Linked DNA regions of Homo sapiens: all the other regions are linked to region 2. The links come from fine-mapping of genetic effects on gene expression. A gene starts in region 2. Each other region holds a variant in brackets. All regions are shown on one strand. Distances are from middle to middle. Region 1 overlaps KCNQ4 (potassium voltage-gated channel subfamily Q member 4). Region 2 holds the start of KCNQ4 (potassium voltage-gated channel subfamily Q member 4). Region 3 overlaps KCNQ4 (potassium voltage-gated channel subfamily Q member 4).

What was found. PIP is the estimated chance that this variant, and not a neighbour inherited with it, causes the effect.
Region 1: its variant is the best candidate, but not a certain one, in a credible set for the expression of KCNQ4 in spinal cord (GTEx, PIP 0.53).
Region 3: its variant is the best candidate, but not a certain one, in a credible set for the expression of KCNQ4 in pancreas (GTEx, PIP 0.85).

The regions. Positions count from the first base shown.
Region 1 is chr1:40,818,903-40,823,022 of GRCh38, reverse strand. It overlaps KCNQ4 (potassium voltage-gated channel subfamily Q member 4), which reads right to left. Exons shown (of 14, transcript NM_004700.4): 5 at 3,551-3,676; 6 at 3,038-3,148; 7 at 2,763-2,858; 8 at 621-709. Among named protein-coding and RNA genes, the nearest start is that of KCNQ4, 37 kb to the right of the region's middle. RefSeq lists cis regulatory regions at 1,931-1,948, 1,973-1,990, enhancers at 1,867-2,011, 1,909-2,053, 1,765-2,266 and a silencer at 4,091-4,120. The variant A/G (reference allele first, on the strand shown) is at 1,805.
Region 2 is chr1:40,781,395-40,785,514 of GRCh38, reverse strand. It overlaps KCNQ4 (potassium voltage-gated channel subfamily Q member 4), which reads right to left and starts at 1,728. Exons shown (of 14, transcript NM_004700.4): 1 at 1,108-1,728. The coding sequence starts at 1,421.
Region 3 is chr1:40,809,953-40,814,072 of GRCh38, reverse strand. The region is part of intron 1 of KCNQ4 (potassium voltage-gated channel subfamily Q member 4); the gene reads right to left. Among named protein-coding and RNA genes, the nearest start is that of KCNQ4, 28 kb to the right of the region's middle. RefSeq lists an enhancer at 199-698. The variant G/C (reference allele first, on the strand shown) is at 2,196.

The DNA of each region.
Region 1 (4,120 bases), 38 kb before region 2:
TCCTGCCTGAGGGCCTAGCCAGGCACCTGGCCACACGCACCTTTGTGATGCTATTAATAATCCCTCTCCTGGTGCCACCCCCATGCAGTCTTAGCCTGGCCCGGGCCAGTGGGGCAGACCCACTTCTGGGCCCTGAGGCTGCTGACTGGCCCAGTAAAAGTGGGCACATATTCCTACATGGGGGTTCAGGGTAGGAGCATGCACCTAAGTCTGGAACACATGTTTCTGCCCATCCCACACTTTCTCCAACCAGCTGCAATATCCACTAACTCTGTCCCCCATTCAGGACTGAGGGGAGACGAGCTGGCTGTATCACTGCCCTAGATGGCATCACCTATGGGTGAGCATGCACACTGCCAGCACTCCAGGGCCGGGGTTCAGCCATGGGGCAGGGCTTCACCAATGCCCTATGTCCAGTATCCACCTCTTCCCTGGGCATAGCAGAGTGGAATAAAGGACACTCCAGGCTCTGAATTACATAGGATCTGCAGAGCCAGCCCAGGGTGCTCCCCTGGGAGCCATCACCCCCTTTCCACCCTCCAGGGTTGAGTCTCAGCCACTTGTCCTCAAAGGGCATTGCTGCCAGCCCCCCACCCACCCCCACCCCCAGCAGGACCTACCTGAAGGATGGGAGGATACTGTCATAGTAGTACCAGGTGGCTGTCAGGTAGGCCCGGCTCATATCGGTGGAGTACAGGCGCCAGGCAGCCTGGTGGTATGGGGGACGTGGGGGATGGGGCATCAGTGAGGCCTCTCAGTCCCCACCAGCCCTCTCCCCTGAAAGAACCCAGTCCTTGGTCCAGTTGTGGGTTACCCAGAGCCAGAGGCCAGTTCCAATTCCACAGCCACTGACAGGGGCAGCCAAGAAAGTAAGGCCTAGGGAGAAACGACTTCCCCGAGGGGACAAAGCAGATCAATGTCAGAGCCAGGGGCCATAGAGCATAGAGGTTAAGAGCTGGAGTTTTGTTGTCAGGCAGACATGGGTTTCCAATCCCAGCTCTGCCCCTTATTAGTGAGGACAAATTAAGTAAAGCTTCAGGACCTCAGTTTCTTCACCTGTAAAACGCATGTAACACTACTTGCCTACCAGGGTGTTGTGAGGATTAAATGAACAGTTGTATATTAAATGCCAAGCTCAGTGCCTGGTATATAGTAGGCACTTCATGCCAGGTTCCTCTGTTAAACACTCCTGTTATTCCCCTTATCACATTTGATGAATACCTATTCATTGTGTATTTGACTGATAACTTTCTCTCCCCCTAGACTGCAAGCTGTGTCTTTGTTACCGCTGCATTCTCAGTGCAAATATAGTGTCTGGCACATGTGGGTGCTTTGCAAATGTTTGCAGAATGTCATTATTATTACTAGCAATGCCACTCCATCTTTCCCAGCTGCCTGTCACTGCCCATGGGAATACTAAGGACTGAGAGGGGAGGAAAAGCATTACCTACCAACCCCTCAGCATCCATGGGCTTGCCGAGCTTCCTCTGCAGCAGGAGGGATGAAAGTCAGACAGGAGGAGAGACTGTCCCTCTCCCTCCACGTAGGAAGAGCCAGGGAGGGACTGTGAGTGTGGCCATCAGTGAGAGCAGGGAGGCATGGAGGCTGCTAGGCAGGACAAGGCAGAGCTGGGCCCTGGACGCCTCCCTTCTTTGGATGCCTCTTGTCCTTAAGGGGCTGCCACTGCTGACCTCACCAGCCAGGCACCCTCCTAAGACAGGAATATTTTTACTTCCTGCTTGCCTAGGCCCCTGGCATGGGCTGGGGAGCAGCTGCCAGAGCTGTCTCATTAATTATGGGCACC[A/G]CAATACTAGCTGTCTCTTGGCATGGACAGTGCCAGCCGCCTGCCCCTACAATGCCCCTCAGAAGGCCAGCTCCCAGGGGACAGTGGCCATTGTGCCCCAAGGGACGCTAAGAAGAAAAGGCTGAGCTGGTGGCTGGAGATAACAGCGACAGGGAGGAGGGTTCTACCCTGGGGAGGAGAGATAAGGAAGGGCTGAGTGAGGCTTGGGTTTGGGGCTCAGAGGGTGACAGGCTAGGGAGCAGGCAGAGGTGGACTGGGCCAGTATTCCCTGAAGCATTTCCTGCAAGGAGTTCCCTTACACACACCCCTGACTAGAAAAAGCCAAGGCCTAGTCCCAGGGTCACAGAAAATCAGAGCCCTGGCCTCAGCCCACACACAGTCACAACACGCCATGGCACAGAGGGAAACTGAGACCACACACTCCTGGCTTCCTACCCACCCCTCTGGCTGTTCCTTCTGTCTCCTTGCCCAGCTCAACTTTGCAGGCCCACCCACCTGCTAAATGTTGAGATTCCTAAAAGCCCTGTCTGCACCATCCTCTCTTCATTTGTGTGAGTGCTTGTGGAATGAATGAATGAATGAAGGTGCTGGAAGTGGGGCAGGCTTACTGCTGCACAGCTGATGGGGGCAGCAGTGGGTCTCCACCAGAGGCCTCCCAGCTCCTGTCTGGGCTCCGCCCCTCCCCAGGCCCTGTGAAGTTGGGCTGGAGTTGGGCAATAGGGCAGTTCTGGCTAGCCCTAAACCAGGCATTTGGTGCAGGGGGAAGTTTCTGGCACTGTCAGTGAGCATCCTGGCTCTGTGTGTGACTTGGCATGTGGCTCCAGGAAAGTCACATAGCCCTTTTGAGCTTCAAAGTGGTGTCACAGTTGGGCTGGGGACATGGGTCAGCACACAGGGTTGACACACCAGTGCAGTCACACGGCCCTGCTCCTAGGGCTTCTTCCCGGGCATCTTGTACCTGGATGAGGTTGGCTGCCGGCATCCTCCGCTTCTCGAAGTGCTTCTGCCGGTGCTGCTCCTGGACCTTCAGGGCAAAGCCGGAGCCTAGGATGCCCTAGAGGGATAGGGCATGGTTGGGGGAATGTGCTGGCAGTGGTGGGGCAGTAAGAGGCTGCAAGGGTGTCCCCATCCTTGCCCCTCTGAGGTACCCCAGGCTCCCCAGGCAAATGTGTGACAGGGGTGAGCAGGTCCCACCCTCAGCCTCCCCCACCAACTGAGCAGGAGGCAACTCACGGCAGGCAGGGCAAAGAAAGAGATGCCCAGTAAGGCGAAGCCAGCAGCCAGGACCCTGCCCAGCCATGTGTGCGGTGTCTTGTCACCATAGCCGATGGTTGTCAATGTAATCTGGAGACACAAACAGGTTACAGGCAGGACTGGTCACGGGGGCCACCTACGGCTTGTTGGGGGTACAGGCAGGTAGGAGCCTGATCATGAGGGAAGGGGCCCCTGGTCACCCACGGGGGCTGGTTAGGGTCATAGATGGATTCTCCCTCTCCTGGGCTGGTCAGGGGAAAGGGGTATAGTCACAAGGTCTTGATGTGCGGGGCTAGCTGGGGACAGAGGCAGGTCCACCAGAGCAGGTTGGGGGGTTAGCATTGGGGCTGGTCTCAGGGGGGTCCCAGCTCTAGTGAGAGGGCAGGGGCAGGCCCGCTCAACCCTGAGTCAGGAGTCACGATGGGCAGACCTCGGGAAGTTCCCAGGGAGGATCCCAGGGAGAAGGGCAGCCCTACAAAGACCCTCACGCACCGTCCCCCACCAGAGCGAGTCGGCGTAGGAGGAGAAGTCGGAGTTGGCGTCCTTCTCAGCCAGGTAGACCAGGAAGGAGGCGAAGATGAGCACCAGGAACCCGATGTACCAGGCGGTGATCAGCTCCTGCGGGGCAGGCGGAGGGGCGCGGTGAGGAGCGCTGTGCCTGCCTGGGAGATGTGGGGGGCTTCCACACGGGAAAGGGATAAAGGTCCCCCATCTCCCGGAGTCCCAGGCTCGCTTTTCTTTCTCAGCTCCTCCCATCACGGCGACCCTGCCCCGGCCTTCGCGAAACCGCCAGCACTCCCCCTACCCCGACCCCCATTCCCACCCCCACCCTCACCCCGCCTGCCTTGAGTCTCCAGGTTCCAGGCTCAGGACTCCAGCACCCGGCCTACCTTGCCCCGTCCCCCAAGTCCCACTTTCAGGCTTCCACCTGGGGCCCACCCTAGCCCCGCTCCAGCCCCACCCTCAAGTCCCACCTCAGCTGCCCACTTTGTGGTACGAGTGGTCCCTTCAAACCCAGAAGCATCCAGGGGAAACCCTCAAGCCCCGCCTCTCCGGCCCCGC
Region 2 (4,120 bases):
GGCCAGCAGGAGGGCTGCTAGACAGTCAGGTGGGCAGGCAGGTGGGCCACCCAGGAGACCCCAGCGCCAAAGGGCCCTCTCTGGTGGCAGCAAAAAGGGATTAATAGCCACACATTTTCCAGGGACCAGAGGTCTCTCTCTGGGCACCTCTGAGCGTCCCAGCGTCAGGCCCAGCCCTTCAACTGATATCTGCGGGGCCTCTCATGTTCCTGGCTGGGCCAGGCCGTACCCCAAGACTGAGCTCTGAGCTGCCAAAATTCACTCTTCACACCCAAGAGGGGTCAGTGTTTTTGAAAGTTGTAGGAGCCTGGTGAGAGGGAGGAGGGGGCCCCAGCAGCGTCAGTGTTTCCAAACCTACCCCTCTCCTCTTTCTTTTTCCCCTGGTGCCTAGAGCCAGGCCTGGTGCTGCCAGCCAACAAGGCAGGCGAGCTGGGCCAAGCCGGCAGGGTAGGGCAGGGCAGGCAGGGCGGCCGCCGTTGCCACTGGGAAGTTGAGGGTGGAGGGGAAGACTGAGCGAAGACACAGATCAAGTCGGACACAGCATATGCGAGTGTCAGGGCCCAGGGGGCCCACAGGGACCCCCACACACCCACAGTCAGCTGGGCAGGGGTAGGAATGAGGGCCGCCCTGGAGAGGAGCACCCCTGAGGGGAGCCCTTCATAGCTCAGAGCTGGGGAGCAGGTGACAGAAGCGTGTGGGAGCCAAGGGTTCCTCTTTGTGTCTGGGACACAGGGAGGCAGGGGTGGGGAAGAGGAAAAGGGCGCCCACTCCAGGGGCCCCAGACTTCGCCAAGCGGACTTGGGGGAGGCAGCTGGCGGTCGGGAGTACCTGGGACAGAGGAGCAGAGATTGGCGGTCAGGATGGAAATAAGCAGTTGCGGTGCGGGGAGGTCAGAAGCGAGGTCAAGCAGGGGTCAGGCCTGGGAGATCAGGGCTTAGGGTCGGGCTCAGCGAGGGGATCAGAAACCGGGCTTAGGCCTGGGGGGAGAGAGATGAGGGTCGGCCCTGAGGCAGGGGGGTAGAAGGCGGAGCCAGGGCGGGGCGGCCGTGCCCCGGGAGGCCAGGCTTGCGCGGGGAAACGCGGAAGGGCGCGGGGTCGCAAACTCACATGAAGACGTGGTAGACGAAGGCCCAGCCGCGGGGCCGCTCCAGCACGTTGTAGACCCAGTTCTGCAGGCGGCGGTAGCGCTTGTGCGCGGCCGAGGAGCGCTGGCCGCAGGCGGAGCCCGAGCCGGAGCCCGGCCCAGGGAGGGGCGCGCCCGGCGGCAGGGGGCTGCCCAGGAGGCCGAGGCGGCGCGGGGAGCCGCCCCCGCCCGCCTCGCCCTGTTCGCTCTGCACGGCCGTGAGCGCCACTAGCTCCGCGCGGGGGGCGTCCCCGGGCGGGGGACCCAGGCCGAGGCGGCGCGGGGGGGCCTCGGCCATGGGCGGCGCCGGGCTGGGGGCGCCGGGGCCCGGGCACGGTCCGGGGCGGGGGCGCGCTCGGGGCGCTCAGAGACGCATGGCTCGGACCCGGGGCCAGAGGGGCGACCCGGGGCGGGCGCGGGCGGCGGGGGCTAGGGGCCGGGCCGGGGCCGCGGGCGGGCGCTCGGAGCCTGGGGGCCGCCGGAGCCCGCACTGACCTCCCGCTTCCCCGGCGACTGGGGCTGCTCTTTCCGACTCCAACTCTCTTATTACGCGCTCCATGCCGCTCGCCTTTCCACCTGCCACCGGCGCGCGCCGCTCACATGTCACCCTCCCCCGCCCCGCCCCTCCCCCGCCCGCCCCGCGGCCGCCTTCCCAAATCGGGAGGGAGCGAGCGAGCAAGCGAGGCGAGGCGGAGGGAGGGAACGCGCGGAGCAGGCGGCGGGGCAGGGCGCACGGGCGGCCGAGTTGGTGCCTGGGCCGAACCGCGTGGCGGGGGCAGCGCGCGGGGCCGGGAAGCCGGACGCGTGCAAGTGGTGTCCACCGCTGCGTGGGGCAGTGTGGCCCCGAAGGCCAGCCCGGGGTGGGACGCCTCGTGTGTGCTTGTGGAAAGTGGAATGTGGAGTTGTGGCCGCGGGCGGCAGGGGAAGGGACGCAGTGTCCCGTGGAGTTTAGGTGTAGACCGGTGGAACGGCGTCTACTTGTGTGTGCAGGGTGGGTGGCTGTGGGTCTACCAGGTGCGGGGATGGAGTCAGTGAGGTGTGAGTTATGGGTCGGGTGTGGGTGGCTGCGAAAGTGGAGGTGGAGTCCGAAGGGGATGAGGTGTGTCCGTTGGGGTCGAGCACTGTGTGCCTGGTGCGGGTGCTTAAAGTGTGCCCAGTGCTGTGTGTGGCTGGGTGGGCAGCGGCGGTTGTCCTGCTCTTACCTGAAAGGCCTGGAGCCCACGGGCTGCTAGGCAGCATCAGGGTGTGTGGAACACAGTGGGCCTGGGTGTGTCTTTCTCCCACCAACTGCCACCTCTGAGCTTCCCTTCATCGTGATGGGGGAAGAGCCACCCTGCCCAGAAGAGGATCCTCCCCGATGGAGGGGCCTGCTCCCCTGCCCCACTCCCAGGTCAGGGAACTGGGTTTGGGCAGATGGAGTGTTGGGAGATGAGCTCTAAGCCAGCCTTAGAGGGGACACACACCCCCTACCCAAGGCCCACAGAATCCCAGCCAGAAAAGGGGATACTTTGTCCCAGGGCATTCCCTCTCCAGCTGGAAAGTTTTTCTTAGTCCCCGACCTCCATCTCTCTGGCTGTAGGGGGCAGTCCCTCTCCTTTAGCCCTCCTGGGCCCTGCACAGGGTTGGTAACTTGGGTTTCCCGATCCTCTTTCCCTCTTCCTCCACGGAAAGCTGCGGCCACACCAGCCGCTCCCTCCGCAGGCCCTGCCCCAGGGTGAGCCTTCCGCAGCAAACTCTTCCCGGTTCCTCCGGGAGGATCTCGAGGGACGAAGCCGAGCGGGAGGGGCGGGGGAAGGGGCGGGAAGGCGAGCTCGATTCTCAGCTGTCAGCAAAGGCAGCATTGATCTGCTGAGCGCCAGTGAGGGAGGGAGGGAGGCAGGGCCGTGGGCTGCAGGGATCTGTGGGGTCCCTAAACTGGGCTTGGCAACCGGCCCACACCCCTACCCCATAGTGATCCTTTCCCCTCTGCCTAGCTGGGGGTGCCCTCTGGGGTCTGACCTGAATCTCTTCTGCTGCTCCTGGTCCAGGTGTGCCCAGGGCCAGAGCCGGGTGCCCCAGGGCAGGTTATGCCCGGATCCTCTACTGGAAGCTGGGGACAGTTTCTGGACCCCAAGGCCCCACTAGGGATGTGGTGCCTGGGCTGAGTTAACCCATCTTCTCTCTATGAGCTGAAGATGGCACCCCCAAAATATGCAGCACTGTCCTCCCTCTGTGGAACTGCCTGGCTGGTTCTTCTCAATCATAGATCCTGGGAAATGGGACTAAGGTCTAGGACATGAAAGGTGCACAGGAAAGCAGTTGCAAGCGCCCTGGGGGTGTTTCTAGGGGGTCTTTTTGAGGCTCTTGTTCTGTAGCAGAAATGGAATTTGAATTCAGGTTGCCCTTAACACCCAGAATATCTGAAACTGGGTCTGTTCTGGGAAATCTAATCTTCAAGCTCAGCATCACCTCTGGATCCCATGGCTCTCTTCCCAGCTGGGGGACTACAAAGGTCCCTTCCCCACCTTGTGAGGAGCCCTCACTGCAGGGAGTGTCTCATCATTCCCAACTCCAGCTCCAGATTACCTGCTCAAAGGCAGCAGAAAGAGGAAAGAGACTGTGGTTGCAGCTAGAGGGATGGAAGTTAGATCTCAGGAAGGACTTTCATAGGGCATAGAAGCCTGTTTCTCCTGCGGGCGTATGGGTAATGGAGGGACACAGAACTCTTCCTAAGGGGTGAGAGGGATGGGGGAGATGGTTCCAGGAGGCCACAGCAAATTTACTTGGCATATGTGTACACATGGAAGAGTGGAAGGGCCAGAAGAGAAAGTCCAGTTCAGAGAGGACAGGTGGCCACTCTTAGGGTCACCGGGTGGCCTTCCTGCGCCATCCGGATTCCCAGGACATGACTGGGAGGACGGACTTTCCCCACCACAACCTTTAGTGACTAAGACACTTTTCTGAGCAAACAGCTGTCTCAGGCTCCCTCAATTGGCCCCTCTGCTGGAGGGGACTGGA
Region 3 (4,120 bases), 29 kb before region 2:
TCAAAAAAAAAAAAAAAAAAAAAAAAGGCCGGGCGCAGTGGCTCACGCCTGTAATCCCAGTACTTTGGGAGGCCGAGGTGGGCAGATCACAAGGTCAGGAGATCGAGACCATCCTGACTAACACGGTGAAACCCTGTCTCTATTAAAAATACAAGAAATCAGCTGGGCTTGCTGGCGGATGCCTGTAGTCCCAGCTACTCGGGAGGCTGAGGCAGGACAATGGCATGAACCCAGGAGGCAGAGCTTGCAGTGAGCCAAGATTGCGCCACTGCACTCCAGCCTGGGCGACAGAGTGAGACTCCGTCTCAAAAACAAAAACAAAAACAAAAACAAAAACAAGAAAAGCCCACTTTGGATCCTGCCCCACCCCTTGACCACAGTCGCCTCTGCCATTTAGCAGGAGTGAGGATGTGGCAGCCTCTCCCAGGTGTCCAGCTCGTGTGTCCAAATGCCTGCTCAATGACTCTTCTTGGATGTCTGGTGGCCTCTCAAACCCAACACCTCCAAACACCAGTTCTCAATTTGTCCTCAAGTCCTCCTCACCTCCAGCCTACCCATCTCAGTAACGGCACCACGGCTCCCCCAGGGCTCAGGCTCCTTCATTCTTCCTTTCCCTCCCCCTGCACATCCCCTTCTGAGCAAATTCCATTGGCTCTACCTTCAGAATCTATCCCTGGGCAGGCCAGGTCGCACCATCCCAACCAAGCCGCCACCATCTGGCACCTACCTGGCCTCCCTGCCTCCACTGTGCCTGAATGTGACCACTCCCTTCAACGCAGCCAGGGTCATCTTCCCACAATGCACAGCTGGAAACCATCGCTCTCCACAAAACTCTCGTCGGACTTCCATCGCACTTAGAGAGGGAAAGTCCAACTCCTCGGCACTGACAACAAGGCCCTGCAAGGTCTGTGCCTCCACCCCCGCCTCCAAACTTGACCTTCTTCACTCTCCTGCTGGCTCACTGCACCCCACTTATTCTGGCCTCCTTGCCAGTCCTGGAACACACCTAACATATTTCCACCTCCAGGCTTTGAACCTGCTTTACTGTTTCCTCTGCCTCACCCAGGTCTGTTCCAATGCCACTTCTTTGGAGGGGCCTCCCCAGCCATCCCCTCTCTGAAAGAATGGCCTCATCTCCACTCTCTTGCCCCTTATTCTGACTGACCGATTGCTTGATTGATTTCACAGCACTATTGAAAGACTAAGTAAATGAATAGCAGGAGTTCACTGTAACCAAACATCAAAACACCATGTTACCAAGCCAAAGCCTCCAGTTTGTACCCACTGAAGAGGTCCCCAAAGCACATCCATCCCTGACTCCTCTGGCTGCCCCATGTCTTTCCTAAAAAGTAACGCCTCTGACCTTGACCATCTCCATTTGGCGGACGCTGCTTAAAAAGCCCCCAAACTTCACTTCTCCCTGCTTTAACCCACTGGCTAAGAGTTTCTATACCCTTGATACTCTCATTACATTTGAAGGGATATACTTGGACTAATAGAAAACATCCTGGGACGAGGCGCGGTGGCTCATGCCTGTAATCCCAACATTTGGGAGTCCAAGGTGGGAGGATTGCTTGAGTCCAGGAGGTCAAGACCAGCCTGGGCAACATTGTGAGATGCTGTCTCTACAAAAAAAATCAAAACAAAAATTAGCCAGGCATGGGGGTGTGCATCTGTGGTCCCAGCTACTCGGGAGGCTGAGGTGGGAAGATCGCTTGAGCCAGGGAGGTTGAGGCTACAGTGAGCTGTGATCTCGCCACTGCATTCTAGCTTGGGGGACAGAGCCAGACTCTGTATCTCAAAAAAAGAAAAGATCCTGTGTTCCAGGCACCTGAATAATTATCCATATCTTCCAGCTGAGGAAATAGAGCTCAGGGAGGGATAGACTTGTTCAGGATCACACAGTGAATCAGTGGCAGAGCTGCAGCTAGAACCCCAGCTCAGGCTGACCCTCAAGCTGCCTTGGCCTTCCTGGAGTGGGGGTGGTCCTCACACAGGGACAGCAGAAGAGAGATCAGTATCTGGAGGTCAGGGGTAGAGGAGACAAGGTGAAGGAGCCCCTTAGCTGGGGTCTCATGCCTGCCACAACTAGGGTGTGGCTTCATTCATCCAACAAAGGACTTTCTAAGGATTCTCTCTGGCCCCCTCTGGGACCTCAGTTTCTCCATCTATACAAATATAGATGAAACATGGGT[G/C]CTGGCTGGCCTGGGCCCTCTCTAATCTCCCCAGCAGACAGGCCAGACTAGCGGCCACTTTCTAGGACATCTTTGCCCATCATGTCTGCCTGCAAGTTGTGGCCCATGTTCTTTCTCCCTGCCCAGCCCAGGAGGCAGAATGAGACAGGCGGGTGTTGCCTGGCTGGCTCTCCCCAGCTGGTCTGATCACAAGGCTTATCCAACCTTTCCTCTCCATTTCCCCCATCTCCCCATCCCATGACTATCCCACTCGTTCAGGAGGGAGCAAGAGGATTAGAGATGAAAAAGTGAATGGTTTGCTTAGATTTGTGGTTTTCAAACTACGGTGGGTGTCAGAGTCACCTGGAGGGCTTGTTAAAATACTGATTTCTGGGACCTATTCCTACAGTGTCTGATTCAGTAAGTTTGAAGTGGAAAATATGCCTTTCTACAAAGGTCCCTGGTGATACTATTGCTGCTGTTATGGGGACCACACTTTGAGAATCACTGGCTTAGGTGATGGGAGCAGTTGCAGCTGACTCAATTATTAGCCAGCTCAGGGCTTTTAAACAACTGCAATCACCGCCTTCTCCACATTTATACCTCCTCAAGTCACTGTCCAGAAGCGGCCACAGGGCAGGAGGGGGAAAGCTCTGCTGGGGAGGTGGCTCTCATGTGGTGACCTGAAGTAATAACCATAACTGCTCCTGCTGGCCAAAGGCTTCCTATTGGCCAGACACTGTGCCAAGCCCTCTAAATGCATGTTCTTAATGAGTTCTCACAGTGACCCCATGGAACCGTACCATCATCACCCTGATAAGGAGAGGGCGGTTCAGAGGCGTATACTGTGGTGACTGCAGAGCTCTGTGAATACACTAAAATCCTCTGAACTGAACACTTTAAAAGGAGGAATTTTACTGTATGTGAATTATATCTCAATAAAGCTGTTATTCAAATGAGAAAAGAAAGGTATGACTTGTTCAAAGTCATAAGCGCAGGACCTGAGCCCAAGACCACCTGGACCACCGGGCCCTACTAATGCTCTGGGCCTCAATTTCCCTGTCAGAAACACACACAAAGGTCGGGGACAACTCAGTGATGGTTAAGGTCCCTGTAGCTTGGTAACTCTCCAGCAGTGGGGTGGAGAGGATCGGCCATCAGCTCAGCTCCAGATTCTCTGGGGATGTCCCTGGATCCAGCTGAGGTCTCTCTCTTCATACCCACTGGGCGTTTGCCCAGTGTCCACGGCTCTCTCTCTCGACATGTCCAACATGTCCCTGGAGGGACAGCTGCTGGGAGGCCAGGCCAGAGAGATGGGGATATGATGGGGGTAGGAAAGATGGCAGGGCATCTCACAGCAGAAAAGAGGTTGTCACCTGACCTCTCTGGGCTATATTCACTTCAGACACCTACACTCAGCCAGGTTTATTGTAAAACCAGAAATGAATAATCCAGGTCCCAAGGAATTAACAACACAGAACATGACACAGTGGTGACGGGATGGACGAGGCCATGACAGTGTACTCAAGGGGTCGGGGAGAGTCCCAAGAAGCCTTCCGCACAACCAAAGTGGAGGGATCAGTGAAGACTTCTTGGAGGAGGTAACTGGACAGGGGTCGGGGTGCCCCAGGCAGAGGAAGCAGGATGTGCAAGCAGTGGGAATGTGGCCGTCGAGGCAGCCCAGAACGGCCAGCAGTTCTGGATGGTGTGGCCTAAAGTGAAGGGGGCAGTGGAAAAACCAGAGAGGGCCAGACCCAGGGGCCTTGAGTAGCATTCTCAGGCACTGTGAACATGATCCCAAAGGCAATGGGGAGTCATTGTAGAGTTCTTTTTTTTTTTGAGACGGAGTCTCACTCTGTCGCCCAGGCTGGAGTGCAGTGGTGTTGGCTCACTGCAACCTCCGCCTCCTGGGTTCAAGAGATTCTCGTGCCTCAGCCTCCCGAGTA